2 separate regions of the Homo sapiens genome follow, and region 2 is linked to region 1. Evidence: fine-mapped expression QTL. A gene starts in region 1. The other region holds a variant in brackets. All regions are shown on one strand. Distances are from middle to middle. Region 1 holds the start of CIROZ (ciliated left-right organizer protein containing ZP-N domains). Region 2 overlaps CIROZ (ciliated left-right organizer protein containing ZP-N domains).

The links. PIP is the estimated chance that this variant, and not a neighbour inherited with it, causes the effect.
Region 2: its variant is fine-mapped to the expression of CIROZ in whole blood (TOPMed, PIP above 0.99).

What each region holds. Positions count from the first base shown.
Region 1 is chr1:10,976,834-10,987,410 of GRCh38, reverse strand. It overlaps CIROZ (ciliated left-right organizer protein containing ZP-N domains), which reads left to right and starts at 5,335. Exons shown (of 13, transcript NM_001170754.2): 1 at 5,335-5,399. The coding sequence starts at 5,374.
Region 2 is chr1:10,951,286-10,962,861 of GRCh38, reverse strand. CIROZ (ciliated left-right organizer protein containing ZP-N domains) reads left to right here. Exons shown (of 13, transcript NM_001170754.2): 6 at 4,110-4,148; 7 at 5,109-5,246; 8 at 5,755-5,839; 9 at 7,676-7,872; 10 at 8,720-8,843. Among named protein-coding and RNA genes, the nearest start is that of CIROZ, 25 kb to the left of the region's middle. RefSeq lists a silencer at 1,496-1,790 and enhancers at 2,093-2,862, 3,632-4,401. The variant C/T (reference allele first, on the strand shown) is at 5,488.

The DNA of each region.
Region 1 (10,577 bases):
TTTCTTTTCTTTCTTTCTCTTTCTTTCTTTCCTTTCTTTCTTTCTTTCTTTCTCTTTCTCTTTCTCTCTTTCTCTCTTTCTTTCTCTCTTTCTTTCTTTCTTTTTTTTCAGACAGGGTCTCTTGCTCTGTCGCCCAGGCTGGAGTGCAGTGGCACAATCTCGGCTCAATGCAACCTCCGCCTCCCTGGTTCAAGCGATTCTTGCACCTCAGCCTCCCAAGTAGCTGGAATTACAGGCGCCCGCCACCATGTCTGGCTAATTTTTGTGTTTTTAGTAGAGGTGGGGTTTCTCCATGTTGGCCAGGCTGGTCTCAAACTCCCGACCTCAGGTGATCCACCTGCTGTGGCCTCCCAAAGTGCTGGGATTACAGGCGTGAGCCACCGCGCCCGGTCTCATGATTCTAATAGAGCAAAAAAGACCGTGTTTCACCAACAGGCTGCATTGCCCATTCACCTTCTGCCTCTCAGGCAACCAAGTATCTAGTTATTTTGTGTGTTTGTAACTGACTGATCAGGAGGAACTTCAGCAAGCCTGGTAATAGTTTGGTTAAATGTTGGTTTCCTCCTCATAAAAGTGGTAAGTAATGGTGCCAGATCTCAGCAAGATGGACATCCTGAAAAGGCCTGGGAAGCTTGGCAGTTGGAATCAATATGTATATTTTTAGTAATCGTTAACCTCTAAGTATCAAAGGAGACCAGTGAGTGGGTCAGTGGTTTCTGCTTTTGAAAAACCAGCTCAGTGGGTATTTGCAAGAGAAGGAAGGTGTTAATAAGAAAACCATGGGGAAAACCGTGCTGGGGCTGACTTGGCCAATTCTCACGGCTTCCAACTATTGCATAAAAGCTACTCTTGACCGGGCGCGGTGGCTCACGCCTGTAATCCCAGCACTTTGGGAGGCTGAGACGGGTGGATCACGAGGTCAGGAGATCAAGACCATCCTGGCTAACACGGTGAAACACCGACTCTACTAAAAACACACACAAAAAAATGAGCCAGGCTTGATGACGCACGCCTGTGGTCCCAGCTACTCAGGAGGCTGAGGCAGGAGAATCACTTAAACCCGGGAGGCAGAGGTTGCAGTGAGCTGAGATTGCATCACTGCACTCCAGCCTGGGTGACAGAGCGAGACTGTCTCAAAAAAAAAAAAAAAAGAAAGCTATTTTGAAAATGTGATTTTCCCAAATGGAGAAATGAAATTTGAGCTCCACTGGAAAGACCCCAATGAAATTGCTTTCTCTAAAAATATCTAAGACGGGAGCCCCTACTGCGTGTGTGTGTGTGCGCGCGCATTTCTAGGAGTGTGTGGGGCATATGCTAAGAGTTTTGTATAGGGTTGTGTGTGTAGGTGGGTTTCAGGGTGTGTGTGTAGAGATGTCTGTGGCTATGTTTATAGGTGTGTGCGTGTGTGTGTAGGAGGAATGGGGTTTAGGGTATCAGATTAGGAAAGAAAACCTGTTTTTCAATTCCTGTTTCTTCTTCTCTTTTTAAGATTTAAACAACAGCTCCAGGGTGGTCCTTGCAGGTTCTCTGAGTGAGCTGTGTACCAGTGATGTTTGCCCTGGCTTTGGCGTTTCTGTTTGAGGCCTTATGAAGTGGGCCAGGGCATCTGGGCCTCCTCCAGGGCCCGTGAGGGTTTCACCAGCTGTGTGTTCTGATCCTGCCTGCTTCTGTTTGGTGTGATGAGGGCCTTTCACCTGAGCGTGAACAGATCCTGGTGACAACCAGCTTCCATGCACCACTCTGGGTCTCCACTTCCAACTCCATGTCTTCTTAGGCGGCTCATGATAAATCCCGAGCAATTTGGGATTAAAGGAAAAGTTGGTCAACAAAAAGATGAGTTAAAAAGAGAAACAGGGCTGGGTGTGGTGGCTCACGCTTGTAATCCCAGCACTTTGGGAGGCTGAGGCGGGTGGATCTCGAGGTCAGGAATTTAAGTTCAGCCTGGCCAAGATGGTGAAACCCCGCCTCTACTAAAAATACAAAAAATTAGCCAGGCGTGGTGGCAGGTGCCTGTAATCCCAGCTACTCGGGAGGATGAGGCAGAGAATTGCTTGAACCTGGGAGGTGGAGGTTGCAGTGAGCAGAGATCGTGCCACTGCACTCCAGCCTGGGTGACAGAGTGAAACTCCGTCTCAAAAAAAGAAAAGAAAAAGAGAAACAGGCTGGGTGCAGTGGCTCACACCTGTAATCTCAGCACTCTGGAAGCCTGAGGCAGGAGAATCACTTGAGCCTAGAAGTTTGAGACCAGCCTGGACAACGTAGTGGTATCTTTCGTACGGACCCCATCTCAGAGACCTCTGGTCTCTGTCTCTTGTTTGTTTGTTTTTTGAGATAGGGTCTTGCTCTGTCGCCCGGGCTGGAGTGCAGTGGTGTGATCTCAGCTCACTGCAACCTCTGCCTCCTGGGTTCAAGTGATTCTCGTGCCTCAACCTCCCGAGTAGCTAGAATGAGTGATATGCGCCATGATGCCTGGCTAATTTTTGTATTTTTAGTAGAGATGGGGTTTCACCATGTTGGCCAGGCTGGCCTCAAACTCCTGACCTCAAGTGATCTGCCCACCTCAGCCTCCCAATGTGCTGGGATTACAGGCGTGAGCCACCGTGGCTGTTCCCTCTGGTCTCTTTTGTCTCTAGAAAAAATTTAAAAATCATCCAAGCATGGTGGTGTGTGCCTGTATTCTCAGTTACTCAGGAGGCTGAAACAGGAGGATTGCTTGAACCCAGGAGGTCGAGGCTGCAGTGAACCGTGATTGCACCATTGCACTCATGCCTGGGTGACAGAGTAGGACCCTGTCTCAAAGAAAAAAAAAAAAGCCAAATCCCAGATATGTGGGAATGTGACCTTATTTAGAAATAGGGTCTTTGCTGATGCAATCAAGTTAAGTGAGGTCATACTGGATTAGGCTGGCCCTTAATCCAGTAATTAGAGTCTTTATAAGAAGAGGAAAATTGGGGCCGGGCGTGGTGGCTCAGGCCTGTAATCCCAGCACTTAGTGCCCCTGTACTCCAGCCCGGTGACAGAGTGAGACTCTCTCTCAAAAAAAAAAAAAAGAAAAAGAAAAATGTGGACAGAGACACCCAGGAAGAATACCATATGCTGGTGACGGAGGCAGAGATGGGAGTGATGCAGCTACAAGCCCAGGACACCCAGGACTGCCACCAGCCACTAGAAGCTAGGAAGAGGCAGGGAACGACCCTCCCCTGGGATCTTTAGAGAGATCGTGGCCCTGCTGACACCTGGATTTTGGACTTCTGGCCTCTAAACCTGGGAGATAATTAGTTTCTGGTTTTTTTTTTTTTTTTTGAGATGGAGTTTCGCTCATCACCCAGGCTAGAATGCAGTGGCGCCATCTTGGATCACTTGCAACCTCCGCCTCCTGGGTTCAAGCGATTCTCCTGCCTCAGCCTCCTGAGTAGCTGGGATTACAGGCGTGTGCCATCATGCCCGGCTAATTTTTGTAATTTTAGTAGAGATGGGGTTTCGCCATATTGGCCAGGCTGGTCTCGAACTCCTGACCTCAGGTGATCTGCCAACCTCAGCCTCCTAAAATGTTGGGATTACAGGCTCTCTTTCTCTCTCTCCCTCTCTGTCTCTCTTCCTGAGATACAATCTTGCTCTGTTGCCCAGGCTGGAGTGAGCCACTGTGCCTGGCTTCCTCGACTTTCAATAATGGCAAGTATTTGGGGCGGGGGGAGGAAGGGATAAACACAGATAAAATGGAATAGTTAAAATCAAGACTTTTTTTTTTTTTCACTTGCAAAGGGTATTAGGAACCATCTAGTCCTAAATCCTCATTTTGCAGGGATATTTGTTTGCAAGGGCTGCCACGACAGAGTACCACAGACTTGGGATTTACACACCAATTGATTTCTTCACAGTTCTAGAGGCTAGGAGTCTGAGATCAAGGTGCAGGCAGGGCTGGTTTCTCCGGAGCTGCCTCTCTGGCTCACAGCTGGCCATCTTCTCCCTGTGTCCTCACACCGTCATTCCTCCGTATGTGTCCGTGCCCTAATCTCCTCTTCCTTTTTTTTTTTTTTTTTGAGACGGAGTCTTATTGTATCGCCCAGGCTGGAGTGCAATGGCACGATCTCAGCTGTCTGCAATCTCTGCCTTCCAGGTTCAAGCGATTCTCCTGCCTCAGCCTCCAGAGTAGCTGGGATTACAGGTGCCCACCACCAAGCCCGGCTATTTTTTGTATTTTTGGTAGAGACAGGGTTTCACCATGTTGGCCAGGCTGGTCTCAAACTCCTGACCTGATGATCCACCCACCTCAGCCTCCCAAAGTGCTAGGATTACAGGCGTGAGTCACTGCGCCTGGTCTTTTTTTTTTTTTTTTTTTTTTTTTTTTTTTTTTTTTTTTTTTTTAGACGGAGTTTTGCTCTTGTCACCCAGGCTGCAGTACAATGGTACGATCTTGGCTCACTGCAACCTCCATCTCCCGGGTTCAAGCAATTCTCCTGCCTTAACTTCCCAAGTAGCTGGGATTACAGGCGTGCACCCCCACACCTGGCTAGTTTTGTATTTTTAGTAGAGATAAGGTTTCACCATGTTGGCCAGGCTGGTCTCGAAGTCCTGACATCAGGTGATCAGCCTGCCTCGCCCTCCCAAATCACTGGGATTATGGGCATGAGTGACTGTGCCCGGCCCCTTTTTTTTTTTTTTTTAGACAGGGTCTTGTTCTGTTGCCCAGGCTGGAGTGCAGTAGCACAATCAGGGCTCACTGCAGCCTCAACCTCCTGGGCTCAAGCAATCCTCTCACCTCAGCCTCCTGAGTAGCTAGGACCACAGGTGTGTGCCACCATGCCCAGCTAGTTTTTAAATTTTTTGTAGAGACAGGGTCTTGCCATGTTCCCCTGGCTTGTTTCGAACTCCTGACCTCAAACAATCTGCCCATCTCTGCATCCCAAAATGCTGGGGTTACAGGCATGAGCCACCATGCCTGGCCCCTCAGCTCCTTTTGAACTCTGCCAGGAGGGGCCTGGAGCAGGGTTCTGGGAAGCCCCATCAAGACAGCGTGACTGTTCCTCCGGTGAAGCTCAGTTTCTTAGCTTCTTTCCTTCCTTGGGCACAGAGACAGGCTTCTCCCGGGAGCGGAGAATGAGGGCCTGCACTCCAGCCTCAGTGGATCAATTCATCTTCAGCCTTCTGATCCGCAATCTTATTTTGAGCTCCCACGGCTGAAGCAATTCATCTCACCCATGCAGAGGGATGGGGAGAAGCTGAGAGTGTTGACACCCACCTGTGTTTTCTGGCACCTGAGTGACCCGAGACCTGCACTGGAGGGGAAGGGGAGGAGCCAACCTTTCGTTTAGTTGCTTGGAACTGCTTCAGATTAAATTCTCCCAGGGCAGGAGAGAGCTGCTGGGCCTGAGGATGTGGGGGTCCCCAGCACTTGCCTGGTAAGTGTCCCTTATTCAGGAATTGGGAGAAGCCAGTGGCATGCTTAGTGTGCCCACACTCCTTGAAGAAGCCAAATATCTTCCATCAGAATCAGAAGCCTTGCATCTAAGAGGGAAGGGGGCCAAATGGGTGAGGGGCCCAGATGCATGGATGCCTTGGGAAGGGCTGACTTTCTCAGGTGAGGTCCGGCCACAGTCTCTCCCACCTTTCTCATGCTCCTGTCATCCCTTGTTCTGGAATTCCAGTCCTCCCATCTTGGGAAGGATTTCCAGAAGATTGGGAGAAAACAGAACACGTCTTCCTTGTCCTAGAGGGTCCTTAAAACAAAACAAATTAGGGGTCAAGTTGACCAAGAGATGCTTGATTTCAAGGAGTTTTCAAATGATAGGAGTTGTGGTCGCTAGCTATTCGATTGTAAGGATTAGGAGAAAATTTCATTTTCCTTCCTTCCCTCCCTTCCTTCCTTCCCTCCCTGCCTTCCTTCCTTTCTCCTTCCTTCCTTCCCTTTCCTTTCTTTTCTCTTTCTCTCTCTCTCTCCCTCTCTGTCTCTCCTTCTTCCTGAGATAGAGTCTTGCTCTGTTGCCCAGGCTGGAGTGCAGTGGCAAGATCATAGTTCACTGTCATCTCTTAACTCCTGGGCTCAAGTGATCATCCCACTTTAGCCTCCTGAGTAGCTGGGACCATAGGCATGTGCCACCACACTTTGGTAATTTTTTAATTTTTTTGTAGAGACAGGGTCTTACTGTGTTGCCCAGGCTGGTCTTAAACTCCTGGGTTCAAGCCATCCTCCTGTCTCGGCCTCCCAAAGTATTGGGATTACGGGCATGACTCACTGCACTTGGCCAAAATCTCATTTTCCTTGGCAACAGAATTGCTACCTCTTTTCCCCATCTGAGATGCATTTTTAAGAGATACTTTAAAAAGCTCCTGAGAGTGGGAAGTGAAGCCTCCCAGGCCAGCTGGAATGTCACAATAGCTGGCTTGTGGCCTTTGGGCCGTGGACTGCAGGGCTTTTGTTGGGCGTTTTGTGAGGTTGAAGTCTGTAGACAATGAAGGCAGTGGAGAAGCTGAGTGGGGCTTTGTGGGGCTGGGCGAGCAAGGGGGAGGTCCGGGCCCTGTCCTGGGGACCCATTGCCTTCTCCTGGATGCCCCATGAGGGGGCTCAGCTTTGGGGGATGGAGCATCATGTCTCCCCCCAGACTGGGATGGGGCAGTTCTGGGTCTGAGAAGTGAGGGGGAAAAACCCAAACCCACATCTTTCTCCCGATTGATGCTCAAGGAGGAGAACAGGAGCAGGCATCAGACGGAGGGGAGAGCTGTCTACCCCCCACCTGCCACCGGGCCGATTCCAGACAGCATTCCCTGTGTAACAGCAGAGTCGGGGTCCCTGGCAAGGCCGGGACTCAGCACCAGAGTCAGCCACTTTCCTTTTCCCCAAGATTATTCTTCTGGTCCTGTCTCAGATTTACTCGCTCTGGGAGAACCTTCCTTCAAGACCAATTGCCCCAGCCAGGTTTTTGTTTTGCAAATTAATCAACTAATAATAGCGCCTCCCCGCTGCTGGGAGAGGAATTCCGCATTGGGCTCAGTGTCCAGGCAGCAGAGCCCAGGGCGGGTACCCGGCCGTCCATGGGAGAGGCTCGCCACAGGCGCTTCTGAATTCAGCGAATGAAGCGGGGCAGCGGGGCAGCCAGGCAGCCGCAAGCTCCTCCCAGCTCAAAGGCTGCAGGCTCAGCTTAGATTCCAGGCTGGGGAACCAGTCCTGTCATTCTTTGCCAACCCACTCTGGGGAGACTGTGGGCCCTGGCATTTGGCCTCCCTGGGCTGGGCCTGAGGCCCTGGCCCTCTGCCCACCCAGGAATCGAATGGCTCAACGAGGGCAGCCCTAGAAGGAAATGCAGCACCCATTCCTGCCTTTTCACATTGCTTTTTAAACTGTTAACTTTCTTTCTTTCTTTTTTTTGAGACGGAGTTTTGCTCTTGTTGCCCAGGCTGGAGCGCAATGGTGAGATCTCGGCTCACCACAACCTCCACCTCCCAGGTTCAAGCGATTTTCCTGCCTCAGCCTCCTGAGTAGCTGGGATTACAGGCATGCGCCACCGCACCTGGCTAATTTCGTATTTTTAGTAGAGATAGGGTTTCACCATGTTGGCTAGGCTGCTCTCAAACCCCTGACCTCAAGTGATCCGCCCGCCTCCGCTTCCCAAAGTGCTGGGATTACAGGCGTGAGCCACTGCACCCGTCCAATAGTAGTTTCTTTCTTTTCATTGCAGTTCAGTATTCCATTGTAGGAGTAGACCACAATGGGTCCATTCTACCACTGCTGGGCGCTGGGGTGGTTTCCAGGTTACAGGAAATAATAGCACTGCTGTCAACAGTCTTGCACGTGTCCTCTGATGCCCTTGTGCTTGCCTTGCAGTTGGAGAGGAAGCGCTGGGTCGAAGGGTGGAGGAATGTTCAGTCTTAGTAGATTCTACCAGTTCCCAAGAGTGGTTGAACCAACCTCACTCCCGCCAGGAGGCAGGAGCTTTCTCAATGCTCCACATTCTGCCAATCTCTCCCTGTCATTCTTTCTTTCCAGCTTCTGGCTTCAGGATTATTTCCTGAACTCCTCTAAGGAAAGCTTCTTTGTGGGAAGTTTAGGTTCTTGCCTGCAGTCATTTTAAATAGTTGGAGTCTCAGCTGCCCGAAGAGTCTTTTAAAATGTGAGATCCTTGCCCTGGGTGCGGTGGCCCACACCTGTAATCCCAGCATTTTGAGAGGCTGAGGTGGGCGAATAACTTGAAGCCAGGAGCTCAAGACCAGCCATGGCCAACATGGTGAAACCCCCGACTCTACTAAAAATACAAAAATTAGCCAGGCGTGGTGGCACACGCCTGTAATCCTAGCTACTCAGGAGGCTGAGGCACGAGAATCACTTAAATCTGAGAAGCAGAGATTGCAGTGAGCCGAGACTGTGCCACTGCACTCCAGCCTGGGTGACAGAGTGAGATACTCAGTCTCAAAAAAGAAAAAAAAAGTGAGATCCTCTTCCTTCCCTGCTTAGAGTTCTCCAGGGCTTCCCACAATTTTTTATGGTAAAACCCCAGCCTGCACCCCTGGCCATGGCTCCTGCCTGCCCCTCTCCTTTTTGCCCACCAGCGGCCCCTCTGTCACTGGCTCTAGTTCCACTGACCTTCTTTTGAGTCCTTAAACACAAACACACCAAACTCATTTCCGACTGTTTGCTGTGCACTGACTATTTCCTCTGCTGAGGAATGCCCTTCCCCAGGTCTTTGCATGGGACTCTTTCTTTTTTTTTGAGACAGGGTCTCGCTTTGTTACCCAGGCTGGAGTGCAGTGGGACAATCATTGCTCATTGCAACCTAGACCTCCCAGGCTCAAGCAATCCTCCCACCTCAGCCTCCTGAGTAGCTGGGACCACAAGCGCATGCCACCACACCAGGTTAATTTTAAAATCTTTTTGTAGACATCGAGTCTTGCTATTTTGCCCAGGCTGGTCTCAAACTCCTGGGCTCAAGTGATCCTCCTGCCTCAGTCTCCCAAAGTGTTGGGATTATAGGCATAAGCCACCATGCCCAGCGGGACTCCGTGACATACATACCATCTTGGTTCAACTGTCACCTCTCAGTGATGTTTTACCTGACATAAAGAAATTTGGGGGCTCGGTGCAGTGGCTCACGCCTGTAATCCCAGCACTTTGGGAGACTGAGGTGAGTGGGTCGCTTGAGCTTAGGAGTTTGAGACCAGCCTGGGCAACATGGTGAAACCCCATCTCTACAAAAAAAATACTAATAAATTAGCCGGGCGTGGTGGCTAACTTTTTTTTTTTTTTTTTACTGTGGAGTTTTGTTCTTGTCACCCAGGCTGGAGTGGTACAATGTCACGCTCTCAGCTCACTGCGACTTCCGCCTCTCGGGTTCAAGCGATTCTCCTGCCTCAGCCTCCTGAGTAGCTGGGATTACATGCGTGTGCCATCACGCCTGGCTAATTTTTGTATTTTTAGTACAGACGAGGTTTTGCCATGTTGACCAGTTTGGTCTTAAACTCCTGACCTCAGGTGATCTGTCAGCCTCAGCCTCCAAAGTGCTGGGATTACAGGCGTGAACCACAGCGCCTGGCAAAAACAGAAATTTGGAATAAACAAAAATATTATTTTTAAAGGTTACTGGTGTCTTCAATGGAAAACTAAGCATTATTTGGAGAAGAGGGTTCCTGCTGTCTAACTCCAGCCTTTCATCACCTTTGTGCTATCTTATGGTGCTCTAAGTCATAGAGAACCTATGGCAATGCAACCAATTCCTGCCTATGGACACGCAAATAAATTTCATGGGGGAGGTTCCATTGGCTTCCCTTCCCCACTGTGGAAGAAGCCAGTTTGGTGTCTATTTGCATCCTGATCTAGAAATGTATCTGTTCTTTCTTCTCCTTTGAACTGGTTGTAACCTCTGCCTGGTTCCCTCACTAATAATGAGTTAATAAAATCTTTAATACAGATTCATCATTTTATTTATTTATTTATTTATTGGAGATGGAGTCTTACTCTGTCATGCAGGCTGGAGTGCAGTGGCGTGATCTCATCTCACTGCAATCTCCGCCTACTGGGCTCAAGCAATTCTCTTGTCTCAGCCTCCCGAGTAGCTGGGATTACAGGCGCACGCCACCACGCCCGGGGAATTTTTGTATTTTAGTAGAGACGGGGTTTCACCATGTTGGCCAGGCTGGTCTTGAACTCCTGATCTCAGGTGATCTGCCCGCCTCGGCCTCCCAAAGTGCTGGGATTATAGGCACGAGATTCATCATTTAAAATCTTTTTGAGGCCAGGCATGGTGGCTCACACCTGTAATCCCAGCACTAGGGTCTCACTGTAGTCCTCCAGGCTGGAGTACAGTGGTGCAATCACTGCTCACTATAGCCTTGACTTCCCGGGCCCAGGTGATCCTCCCACCTCAGCCTCCTGAGTAGCTGAGACTACAGGCATGCGCCACCATGCCCAGCTAATGTTTTATAGTTTTAATAGAGACAGGGTTTCACCATGTTGCCCAGGCTGATCTTGAACTCCTGGGCTCAAGCCATCCCCCGCTGCCTCAGCATCCCAAAGTGTTGGGATTACAGCTGTGAGCCCTCGCACCCGGCCTAAAATCTATGTTGCCTTTTTTGAGGATGATCTTTTCACA
Region 2 (11,576 bases), 25 kb after region 1:
AGGCGTGGGCCACTACGCCTGGCCCAGCAAACACTTATATATGGCTCATTCTGTGCTGGGTGCCGTTCTACTCACTTTGCAAATATTAACTCATCTCACCTTCATAGCGATTCTATGTAGTTGGTTCTATATTGATCCCCATTCTGCAGGTGAGAGAACTAAGCAGAGAGAGATTAGGAGACTTGCCAGCTGGTAGCAACAGAGCTGGGCTTTGAGCCAGACCACATGGTGGGGGCTGGGGATGCTGGAACAGGCACAACCTACAGTCCTGGCCCCCTACAGAGGGAGCTGAGGCTGGACTGCACTCCAGCCCCATTTTGCCAGATTTTCCAACATTTCAAGATAAACTGGAAATCTATAATTGTATGTGAAATCCTCCAGTTAAAAAAAGTTCACTTTATTTATTTATTTTTTTGAGATGCAGTCTCGTTCTGTCACCCAGGCTGGAGTGCAGTGGCGTGATCTCAGCTCACTGCAACTTTCGCCTCCTGGGTTCAAGTGATTCTCCTGCCTCAGCCTCACGAGTAGCTGGGATTACAGGCATGCATTACCATACTCGGCTAATTTTTTATATTTTTGGTAGAGACGGGGTTTCCTCATGTTGGCCAGGCTGGTCTAGAACTCCTGACCTCAAGTGATCCGCCTGCCTCGGCCTCCCAAAGTGCTGGGATTACAGGTGTGAGCCACCACGCCCGGTCAAGTCACTTTAATTTTGTAGGCACTGTGCGGCTCAAACAAAGTGCTGGATTTGGCCTGAGGGATTTGGGTGGGCATCTTCTGTCTGTGAGGAGGAGGAGGAAGGAAGGAGGAAGAGAAAGGAGAGGAAGGCAGAACTGAGAGGAGGAGGTTGGAGTGAAAAGGCTGCTGATGACAAACACCATTTATCCAACAAGCATTTGTTCATTTATTTATTTTGAGACAGAGTCTCGCTCTGTTGCCTAGGCTGGCGTACAGCGGTGTGATCTCGGCTCACTGTAACCTCTGCCTCCTGGGTTCAAGCGATTCTCATGGGATCACAGGCATGCGCCACCACCAGTTTAATTAAAGCCAGTTGATTTTTAAAATATTTTTTGCGTTTTTAGTAGAGATGGGGTTTCACCATGTTGGCCAGGCTAGTCTCGAACTCCTGACCTCAACCGATCCACCTGCCTTGGCCTCCCAAAATGCTAGGATTACAGGCGTGAGCTGCCGCGCCTGGCCCCAACAAGCATTTATTGAGCATCTATTGTATGCCCAGCCCTGTGCTGCTGCTGAGGGAACAGATACGACCAAGGCATGACTTGCCCCAGGAAGAGCTTATCGCTTTCTTCTCATCTGATCTGAGCTTCAAAAATGAGTGTGCTGTGGTGGGAAGGGCCCCTGCACCAGCCCAGCTCAGAAGACCTGGGCTCATCTCCGCTCTGAGCCCGGCTCACTGCCATGTTGGACTCTCTAAAGTTCCTTTGCTTCTTAACCTGAAGGAGCAGGGGCTGAGCGGGAGGGGCTTCCTCTGCCCACCTACCTTTATTAAGGGCTCAGAGTGGCCACGCCAAAGCCAGTGTTGGTGCACCTAAGAATTGCGGGGCCGGCCCCGCCCCGGGATCCCCAAGCAGGGCTGCCAGGGCACCTGTTTGACATCCCGGGGCTGGTTACTGCTCCCTTTGCACTGAGCCTGTGATTCTGGAAGCCGCCGCTAGGGGGACGGTGTTGCTGTCCTCACACGACAGTGGGCCTGGGCCGAATTGCTGAGAAAAGCAGAAACGACTCCTCACTCGGGCGCCGCTTGGTCTCCATCGTCCTGCCCTTGAAGCCCAGATGCCCCAATGCCCCAGTCCCTGGCATCCTTCACTGACCGAGGTGTGGGAGCAGGTGGGTGGGGGGGGCTCTGCATCCGTAAACAGAGTCGCACAGAGGTAGGCAGCACACAAGGAGCAGAGGCAGGTCTCTGCTGCCCCCGCCTCCCCTCCAGCCCCTTCCCCCATCTGAGAACCTCATCGAATTGACTGATTCATTCCTGGTGACTTCTGCAGCCGCCACTTCCGTGGCTGCACCTTGAACTTGCATTAAGTTTTAATTAAAGCCGTTTCACCGGCCTTGCCCTTGGCTAAATGCAGCTGTGGGCACAGGGCACATAGATATTTAATACTCTGCCTCTCCCCGCTGATGGCGCAGGGTGCCCAAGGGTGTACCCGAGCCGTGCCCTGCTCGCAGCGATCTGCGAGCTCGCTTAAGTGTGCCCACAGGCCCCGAGCGGGAGGCCGCGCAATAACTATTCATTGCCCTGGGTTAAGTGTGCCCAGGGGCACCCGTAAACTCAATGCAGTGATTAGCGATTGCTCCCAGTGAAGGCTGCCCGAGCTCCTGCGGAATGTCCACGGGCCCTAAATATAGCCTCCTCCTGGCGACTTAAAGGGCACGGTGCGTTTTGGCTGCGTACTTGTCACGTCTTCCCTTCCTTTCTTTTTTTTTCTTGGAGACAGAGTCTCACTCTGGCCAGAGTCGCCCAGGCTGGAGTGAGTGGGACAATCTCAGTTCACTGCAACTTCCGCCTCCCAGGTTGAAGCGAACCTCGTGCCTCAGCCTCCTGAGTAGCTGGGACTACAGGCGCCTGCCACCACTCCTGGCTAATTTTTTTATTTTTTATTTTTTGTATTTTCGGTAAAGATGGGGTTTCACCATGTTGCCCAGGCTGGTCTGGAACTCCTGAGCTCAGGTGATCCACCCGCCTCAGCCTCCCAAAGTGCTGAGATTCCAGGCATGAGCCACTGCACCTGGCCTTCCCTTCCTTCTTTTAGCAGAATTGCTTCCCTCCTTCTTACAGCCTGGCCTCTGGGGGCCTCTCTGTCTTCTTCCTGGTTCAGCAGGGGAGATGGGCTGGGGCACCATGGTGCAGCTTTGGTGGTGTTGTTGAGGAATTGCCGCATCCTCCTCATTCTGCCAGACCTTGTGGACATCTCCTCCATTTCTTCCACTTTGCTCCCCAAGGGAAGGCAGCACCCCCTAAAAGCAAGGCCATCACAGGGCTGACCCGAGGGGCTCCCTGTGGGCAGCCCGAGCCTGCTGCCAACATGGGCTCTCTGGGGCCAAGGAACAGCCGAGCTGGGCAACTGGGGAGGCTGCATGGTGGTGGCGGGCCTTTTCCTGGCCCCACCCACTCCTTTCTGCTTCTGGAAGCCCTTCTTTGCCCCTGGGGAGAAGAGGTGGGTAGCCTTGAGTTGGGGAGCTGTCAAGATGAGTCAGTCCACTCTGGCTCCAGTCTCCTCATTCTGTATTGGGTAGGAGAGGGGGTCTGATGGTCTCCGAGGGACCCTCTGCTGGTCTGTGACTCTGTCCGGTGCCACAACCTCCCTGGCCAAGTCTGACGCAAAGGCAAAGGGGCATTTGGAGAAAGTAGAGAGACTTGAGAGAGCACCTGGGTGGGGTGGCACTGGCTGCAGAGGGGTTTTGGGGAAGGTGCCTTGCCCACGCCATCACCTTGGGCCCTGGTCTGTGAAACGGGAGAATGGTGCCACCCTACGGGATGGCTGTGAGACTCAGGCGCGGTACGAGAAACCACTGTCTCGGTTTGCCTGGGCCTGTCTCAGTTTTAGCACTGAAAATCCCACATCAGGGGAACCTCCCCACTGCTGGGGAACCGGGATGGTTGGTGCCCCTAAGAATGGTGCCATTGGGGGGCACATGTGTACTCTCTGGGACCGTAGAAGCCCTCACTCTCTACTTCTGCTAGTTGGATCCAAAGTGGAAAGAAAAAGGGCGAGAAAGAAATTGGGACTTAGGGAGAAAAACAGACAAGAGGCCTAGGAAACAGCCCCAATGGAAGTGGGCCGTGAGCAGGGTTGGTCCCATGCACACCCGCTCTTGGCCTCACCAGCTGCGCCCAGGACCCCAGCTGCCCCCTTGGCCGGGCCTAGGATGGCAGCTGAGGCAGTGACATTTCCCTGCGTCTGTTGACACTCGAGTCCCAGAACATAAATGATTTTCTTGTCTTAATGAGCAAACAACCCTGCGGCACAGCTCTCTCACCGGCCTCCTGCTGGGGTAATTGCCGGTGCTGATGGGCACAGGCAGGGATGTTTGCTCACCTTTGCTCACCGCTTGCAGGAGACATTGCTTCCTCTTTGTCTCTGCAGGTCTCCCGGCCCCTGCCCCTGTGGAGGGACAATAGACAGGTAAGCGGGCCCCATTGAAGTAGCAGGAGCAACTCTCTGGAAGTTTCTGCTAGGACTGGTGGGTGCTCAGGATGCTCTGAGGCAGCTTTTGAGTTTGCTTGTCCTCCGGAGAGTGTCGTGGATGGTACAGACTCTTCAAGGACCAGGTCTTGCCGGCTGAAGTTTGAAGCTCCCACTGATGCCCTCCAGGCAGAGGCCTGAGGCCATCTGAGAACAATCTTGAAGAGGGGACCCCAGCTTTGGGTGGGAGGCTGGGTTGGAAGGCTGTAAGGTCCTTCCTGTGCTAAGATTCTCTCTGCCAAGTCTCCAGTGACAGGGAGCTTGTTCCTTTGTAAGGAGCTTGTTCCATGTTGCACAGGTGTTTCCCGAATTTTCCTTCTGCTGGTCCTTTGAGTGTTTCCCGCAGCCTCCCCGAAGGATCCAGTCCCTCTTCTCCATTTCACATCCCTTTGAATATTTGGGGTCAGTGAGCTTGACCTCCCCAAGTCTTCCTGATGTCTCCCTGCCAGTCCTCCTGAGATGGGAGCTGGCGACCCTTCCCTGTCCCTCTGCCCGCATCTGGCCCTCACCTTTATTCAAGACCCTGATTCCCATGTCCCACTAAAGGGTGGCAAACAGAGCCAAGGACAGGACTCCAGTTGTGCCCAGCCAGGGCGGCATAGGGGCCGACTGGTTGGCATTGCTGTTAGGGGTAACTGTGTGTTCGTTCTTTCAGTTGCGTTGTACACCTACTGTGTGCCAGGCACCCCTGCAAGGGACCTCCTACCCTAAAGTATAAGCGTGCTAGCGTCTGGTTGACTCTCCTCCCAGAGTGGCCTGCCGTCCTGCCTCCTGGCCTAGATTATCCTCCCCGTGACCCTGTTGCCTTCCTAGGTGACCCTTCAAGTGTCCCCTCTCCGTAACCCCTAGTGACCGTGCCTCCCTGGCCACATGGTTTGTGATCGTGTCCTCTTTCTCCAGACTCCATGGCTGCTGTCCCTTCGAGGGGAGCTGGTGGCTTCTCTTGAAGACGCCAGCCTGATGGGACTGTATGTGGACATGAATGCCACCACTGTCACCGTCCAAAGCCCGAGACAAGGCCTTCTTCAGAGGTGGGAGGTCAGTGGTGGGCAGCAGGCTCTGCCAGGAGGTGAGGGGCCTCTGGGGCATAGCACCTAGAAGAGCAGGTTGCCACCCCTCCAGTGACAAGTCAAATGTCCACCTGCGAGACTGGACAGATTTAGGCAGGCGCCTTCGAAAATTGGGCCCCATTAGCGTAAAGCGCTCCGCTCTGCAGATGAGGGGCTCCTGCAATCATGCATTCAGTGCGTCCTGATCATGGCGGCAGGAGCGTAATTAC[C/T]GTCTCTTTAAATAGCCCAAAGTTGCTGTGTAAGAGAAGACGGCTCACATGACATTTGCTCTGAGCTCGCTTCCTGCTAAAAATATCTCAGCTAAATAATATTTCCTAGTTGCATCGGCGCCATAATCCCTGACCTGGGCTTTGTAACACTTGGGGCTTTAGTTCAGAGACTAATTCGAAGGTAGGAGAGGGGGCCCCTGTGGAGGGAGTCTGCATCTGGAAGGAGCAGTTTTGGAGACCTCAGGGGGGACCCCCCTTCCTCCCCAGGTGCTGAACACCTCTGCTGAGCTCCTGCCACTATGGCTGGTGAGCGGTCACCATGCCTATTCTTTAGAAGCTGCTTGCCCACCGGGTAAGACCCAGGAGTGCCCCTAATGTCCACCTTTCCAACTTCATCACATTCTGGTCTGTTTTCTCCCTCCTCTGGGCACCTTATTCCCCTCTGTCTCATCCCACCTCTCCTCTCCTCAGTCCCAACCTTGGCTATGCGTTTCAGAAATGCTCGGGACAAAGAGAAGTTTGCTTTTGCTGGAAGGTGTTGGGGTATGTGTGTGTGGAGTAGGGGTGGGATGTGGGGTGAATAAAAAGTAAAATCATCGGCCGGGCGCGGTGGCTCACGCCTGTAATCCCAGCACTTTGGGAGGCCGCGGCGGGTGGATTACGAGGTCAGGAGATCAAGACCATCCTGGCTAACACGGTGAAACCCTGTCTCTACTAAAAAAATACAAAAAATTAGCCGGGCGTGGTGGCGGGGGCCTGTAGTCCTAGCTACTCAGGAGGCTGAGGCAGGAGAATGGCGTGAACCTGGGAGGCGGAGCTTGCAGTGAGCCGAGATGGTGCCACTGCACTCCAGCCTGGGGGACAGAGCGAGACTCCATCTCAAAAAAAAAAAAAAAAGTAAAATCATCTACTACAGACCTGCAAACTTGAGGTCTGCAAATTCTTGGGAGCTCCTAAGCTGGCTCCAGAGGCTCTGAGAACAGAGACGGGAGAGAGCCTGCAGCCTGGTCAGACCCTCCAGGGCTCTGTGATCTGAGGGTGGTGGGGACCCCCTATCTAGACCATGTATGTGATAACTGTTTTGTTCAGCCTGGAGTGACACCGTTGCCCTGGGTCTTATGTCATATAAAGAGGTCCGGAATCTGGAAGACCACTTCCTACCTCCAGGGAATTTAAATTCAAAGAACTCGGTGTGCAAAGTTAGGTGGATCAAAGGCTTCATCCTGTGTGGGTAGATTAGAGGTGGTTTAGACTTTCCATTTGTATAGAATTTTATCATGGACTGAGTTTCGGGATCAGGGCTCAGGGCTCTGGGGATTTTCAGGCATTGGCAATGACCATGATGAGCCTCCAACCATCTCTTTCCCTGTTCACAGTGTTTCAAATCCCTTTATATAAAGGCAGATGCTTCCATTAGCAGCTGCAGAGCTGGCTTAAAATGTCCCCCTGAGAGCCTGACACAGTGAAATTCTTGCTAAAGTGTAAACAACTGATAGGAGCTGTATTTCTTTCTTTTTTTTTTTTTTTTTTGAGATGGAGTTTCACTCTTGTTGCCCAGGTGGGAGTGCAGTGGTGCGATCTCGGCTCATTGCAACCTCCACCTCCAGGGTTCAAGCGATTCTCCTGCCTCAGCCTCCCAAGTAGCTGGGATTACAGGCACCCGCCACCACGCCTGGCTAATTTTTTGTGTTTTTAGTAGAGATGGGGTTTCACCATGTAGGCCAGGCTGGTCTTGAAATCCTGACCTGAGGTAATCCACCCACCTCGGCCTCCCAAAGTGCTGGGATTACAGGCATGGACCACTGTGCCTGGCCTAGGAGTTATATTACTTAAGAGTTGCTTTGGAAATGGAAGGGGCACTGGGCTAGGTCACCGAAGCCAAAGACGGTCTCAGTAGAGACATTTCTGCAGCTTCCCTCCTGGCATCTGCTTCCTGATGGGCCTTTGCAAGTGGCAAGGTCTGTCAGGTGTTTGGGAATGGTCTTTTTTTCTTCTCTTCTTCATCCATGCAGCTAAGTTTCAGCCCAGGCAGTGATACCAGGACACCAAGTAACTTGCTGTCACTGACTGGGGAAGTGTGCTGTGCCGGCCACAGGTGTGGCCCCTGGCAAAGGCCCACCACCACTTAATTTGTCCACGAGCCTGCAAAGTGTGCCTTTTTCTGTGTCCTGTGTCCTTCCCATTCCAGTGTCATTCCAGCCAGAGTCGGAGGTCTTAGTTCACATCCCCAAGCAGAGACTGGGTCTAGTCAAAAGAGGTTCCTACATTGAGGAAACCCTGAGCCTCAGATTCCTCCGAGTCCACCAGTCCAACATCTTTATGGTGACTGAGAACAAGGACTTTGTGGTGGTCAGCATTCCGGCGGCCGGGGTGCTCCAGGTCCAGGTGAGTATCCGGTGGCATCTCTGTCTCGCCCCTTCTCTTCCTGAGGCCCTTCTCCTTTGGTCACCGATGCCATATGTGGTCAGAAACATGGAAGGTAGGCCAGTCACAGTGGCTCGTGCCTGTAATCCCAGCACTTTGGGAAGCCGAGGCCGGAGCGTCACTTGAGCCTGGGAGTTCAAGACCAGCCTGGGAAACATAGTGAGACCTCATTGCTACAAAAAAATTACAAAATGAGGTGGGAGAATTGCTTGATCTTAGGGAGTTGAGTCTGTAATGAGCTGTGATTGTGCCACTGCACTCCTGCCTAGGCAATGGGAGTGAGACCCTGTCTCAAAAAATAAAAGTAAAAAAGAAAGAAATGTGGAGGGCAGAGCTGTGGCGCTGGCTGAAAATGGACTTCACCATGTATGCTCCTCAGGCCCGTGCTTTTACCAAGGTAGCCCCATCAGGGGACAGCCACAGGGCATGGGATGCCCCTGCCATGTGCAACTAATTTCTTATCTTTTCTTTTCTTTTCTTTTCTTTTTTTTTTTTTTGAGACAGAGTCTCGCTCTGTTGCCCAGGCTGGAGTGCAGTGGCGCGATCTCGGCTCACTGAAACCTCCTCCTCCTGGGTTCAAGCGATTCTCCTGCCTCAGCCTCCCGAGTAGCTGGGACTACAGGTGCCCACCACCACGCCCAGCTAATTTTTTGTGTTTTTAGTAGAGACAGGGTTTCACTGTGTTAGCCAGATGGTCTCGATCTCCTGACCTCATGATCCGCCTGCCTCAGCCTCCCAAAGTGCTGGGATTACAGGCGTGAGCCACTGCGCCCAGCCAATGTGCAACTAATTTCTTGTGGCCCCACAGCGATGCCAAGAAGTCGGAGGAACCCCGGGAACACAAGCTTTCTATAGGGTAGACCTGAGCCTGGAATTTGCCGAGATGGCTGCCCCGGTCCTCTGGACAGTGGAGAGCTTCTTCCAGTGTGTGGGTGAGTGAGGCACCATGAGGGTGTGACTGCTGGTAACAGGCACACACCACACAAACCCTCTTTCCTTGGCCCTGGGGTTCTTTCTTCTGTGACAATGTTTCACTCCCTGGACCCGACAGATCCCACACCTACAAGGTAAGTGAGGTGTCAGACATACTGGCTGGAACTGGCAGAAGAACAACAGTATCATGAGAACTGAGTGGTGATGTGGTTCCTGGCCCTGGAGTCTGCCAGGGAGGGGACAAGGGAGGCGGATGGGGGTGCATCCATTTCCTAACCAACCGTACAACCTCAGTGAGTTACTTAACCATGTTGAGCCTCAGTTTTCCCATCTGGAAAATAGGCATACCAGTACCTATTTTGAGGACTGAATGAGATAAGGGGAATCAATGGCTTAGAAGAGTGAGTGCCTGGCACAAGAAGAGCTGTTTCCATTTATCCACTCTCTCTGTGTGGGCTCCAGTTCCTCCGGTCATTTGGTAGACAGACGAGTGTCCTTGGCAAAGAGCACGACACGATGCAACTTGTTTCTCAGCTCAAGAGGAACCTTCTTCTAAACGTGGTGTATGCCTTCATGCTAGGATGCTGGGATGGGGTTTTTGGCGAAAGCTCCGCTAATGGACAACCTGGTATTCACACATGCAAAACCACCAGGAGCAAAATCCATTGAAATACAGCACAAGGAAATGCACGTAATTCACAAACGATGTCGATCACTTTCATCTTATACTTCCTAACTGTCCTCAATCGAAGACAGACGCGAAGGAGATTTAACTCAGATGTTAATAGTGCAAGTTTGCCCTGTCACGAGGATATGATGTTTCGGTGTTGCACAAAAGTGTAATTATATTCAGAACTATATTTAAAGATTAAAAGGGGGACTGCCTACCACAGCTAGCCCCAAATTCAGAATTAGAAACAAAGAAAAAGGCGGGATTGGGGGTGAGTTCTGACAGTCTGCTAAAAATGGAAATGTTTCTTGAAAATTTTTACACATTTTGGCTGTTTTTATTTTAACAGTTTCCTGCAGTGATGACATTAATCTTGGAAAGCGAGGGCTAGAACTTTATCCAACAGATATTCAATAAGCAGTTGCGATTTATGAGGCCCCATGCAAGGCTTAGGTGGGAATAGAGGCTGCTGGATTTGGTTCTTGCTCTCAAGCAGCGTCCAATCTGGAAGGGGAGATAAGAAATGCCCACAGAAAGGCCAGACGCGGTGGCTCACGCCTATAATCCCAGCACTTTGGGAGGCCAAGGTGGGAGGATCACTTGAGGCCAGGAGTTTGAGATCAGCCTGGCCAACATGGCGAAACCCTGTCTCTCCTAAAAGAAGACATCTCTAATCTGTAATCGCAGCTACTTGGGAGGCTGAGGCAGGAGAATCGCTTGCACCTGGGAGGTGGAGGTTGCAGTGAGCTGAGATTGTGCCACTGCATTCCAGCCTGGGCAACAGAGCAAGACTCGTCTCAAAACAGAAACAAAACCAAAAAACAACACCAAAAAAATGCCCAGAGAATTATGAGGGCAGGTGAACTCAGGAGAGATGTCAGAGAGTAGGTGATCTTTATCCTAGGTTTTGATGAGAGGGCAGGTCCTTGATAGGAAGATACAGAGTACAGTATAAAAATAGATCAGCAACAGCAATAGAAACATTTTAGGAAGAGTTTTTTTGGCCTCTCTGGAAAGATTTACACGGGGAAAGAATGTTCTCTTCCTCATTTTGTTAATTTTACATCAGCAACCAGAATGAATCTCTCCCCTCCCTGGTTCCCAGCACACCTCCCCTGCACCTCCCCAGCAGCTTCCCTGCAGCTTCGAGGTCTTTCTATTCTTATTATAGTTATGGTGCATGCTCCTGTCTCTCCCTCTAGTATGAATTCATTCAGATCAGGGGCTGTGTCCTGTTCGGCTTCTTATTCTTGACAGGCCTTATCTTGCCGCCTTGCCCTTGTAAGCACTTCATAAATGCTTGTTGGCTTGAATTTTCACCAGGAATTAAAGAAAAAAGTTTTACACAGATAATATTTTTCTTTTGTAAATATGTGACTAATGTGTTGGAATATTAATATATGCTAGAATTGCCTAAACTCCCCGTGGTTAGAGATTTTTAAAAAATCTTCCTCTTCCCTGACCCCAAAAGTAATTAGAACCTATAGGACAAATCCTAATTATTGAAGTGTCTGGTCTGCAGAAATCTAAGAGATGGTTTAGATATAGTTGTTTTCATATGTGTGTGTATGTGTGTGTGTGCATATATATATATATATATATTTTTTTTTTTTTTTTAAATAAGAGACAGGGTCTTGTTCTATTGCCTAGGTTGAAGTACAATGTTGCAATCATAGCTCATTATAACATTGAGCTCCTGGGCTCAAGGGATCCTCCTGTCTCAGCCTCCTGAGTAGCTGGGATTATAGGTACAAGACACCATACCAAGCTAGTTTTTAAACTTTTTTTTTTTTTTTACCCCGAGACAGAGTCTCACTCTTGTTGCCCAGGCTGGAGTGCAATGACGCAATCTTGGCTCACTGCAACCTCCACCTCTCCTGCTTCAGCCTCCCGAGTAGCTGGGATTACAAGTGCCCGCCACCATGCCTGGCTAATCTGTATTTTTAGTAGAGATGAGGTTTCACCATGTTGATCAGGCTGGTCTTAAACTCCTGACCTCAGGTGATCCAGCCGCCTCAGCCTCCCGTACTGCTGGGATTACAGGCGTGAGCCACCATGCCCA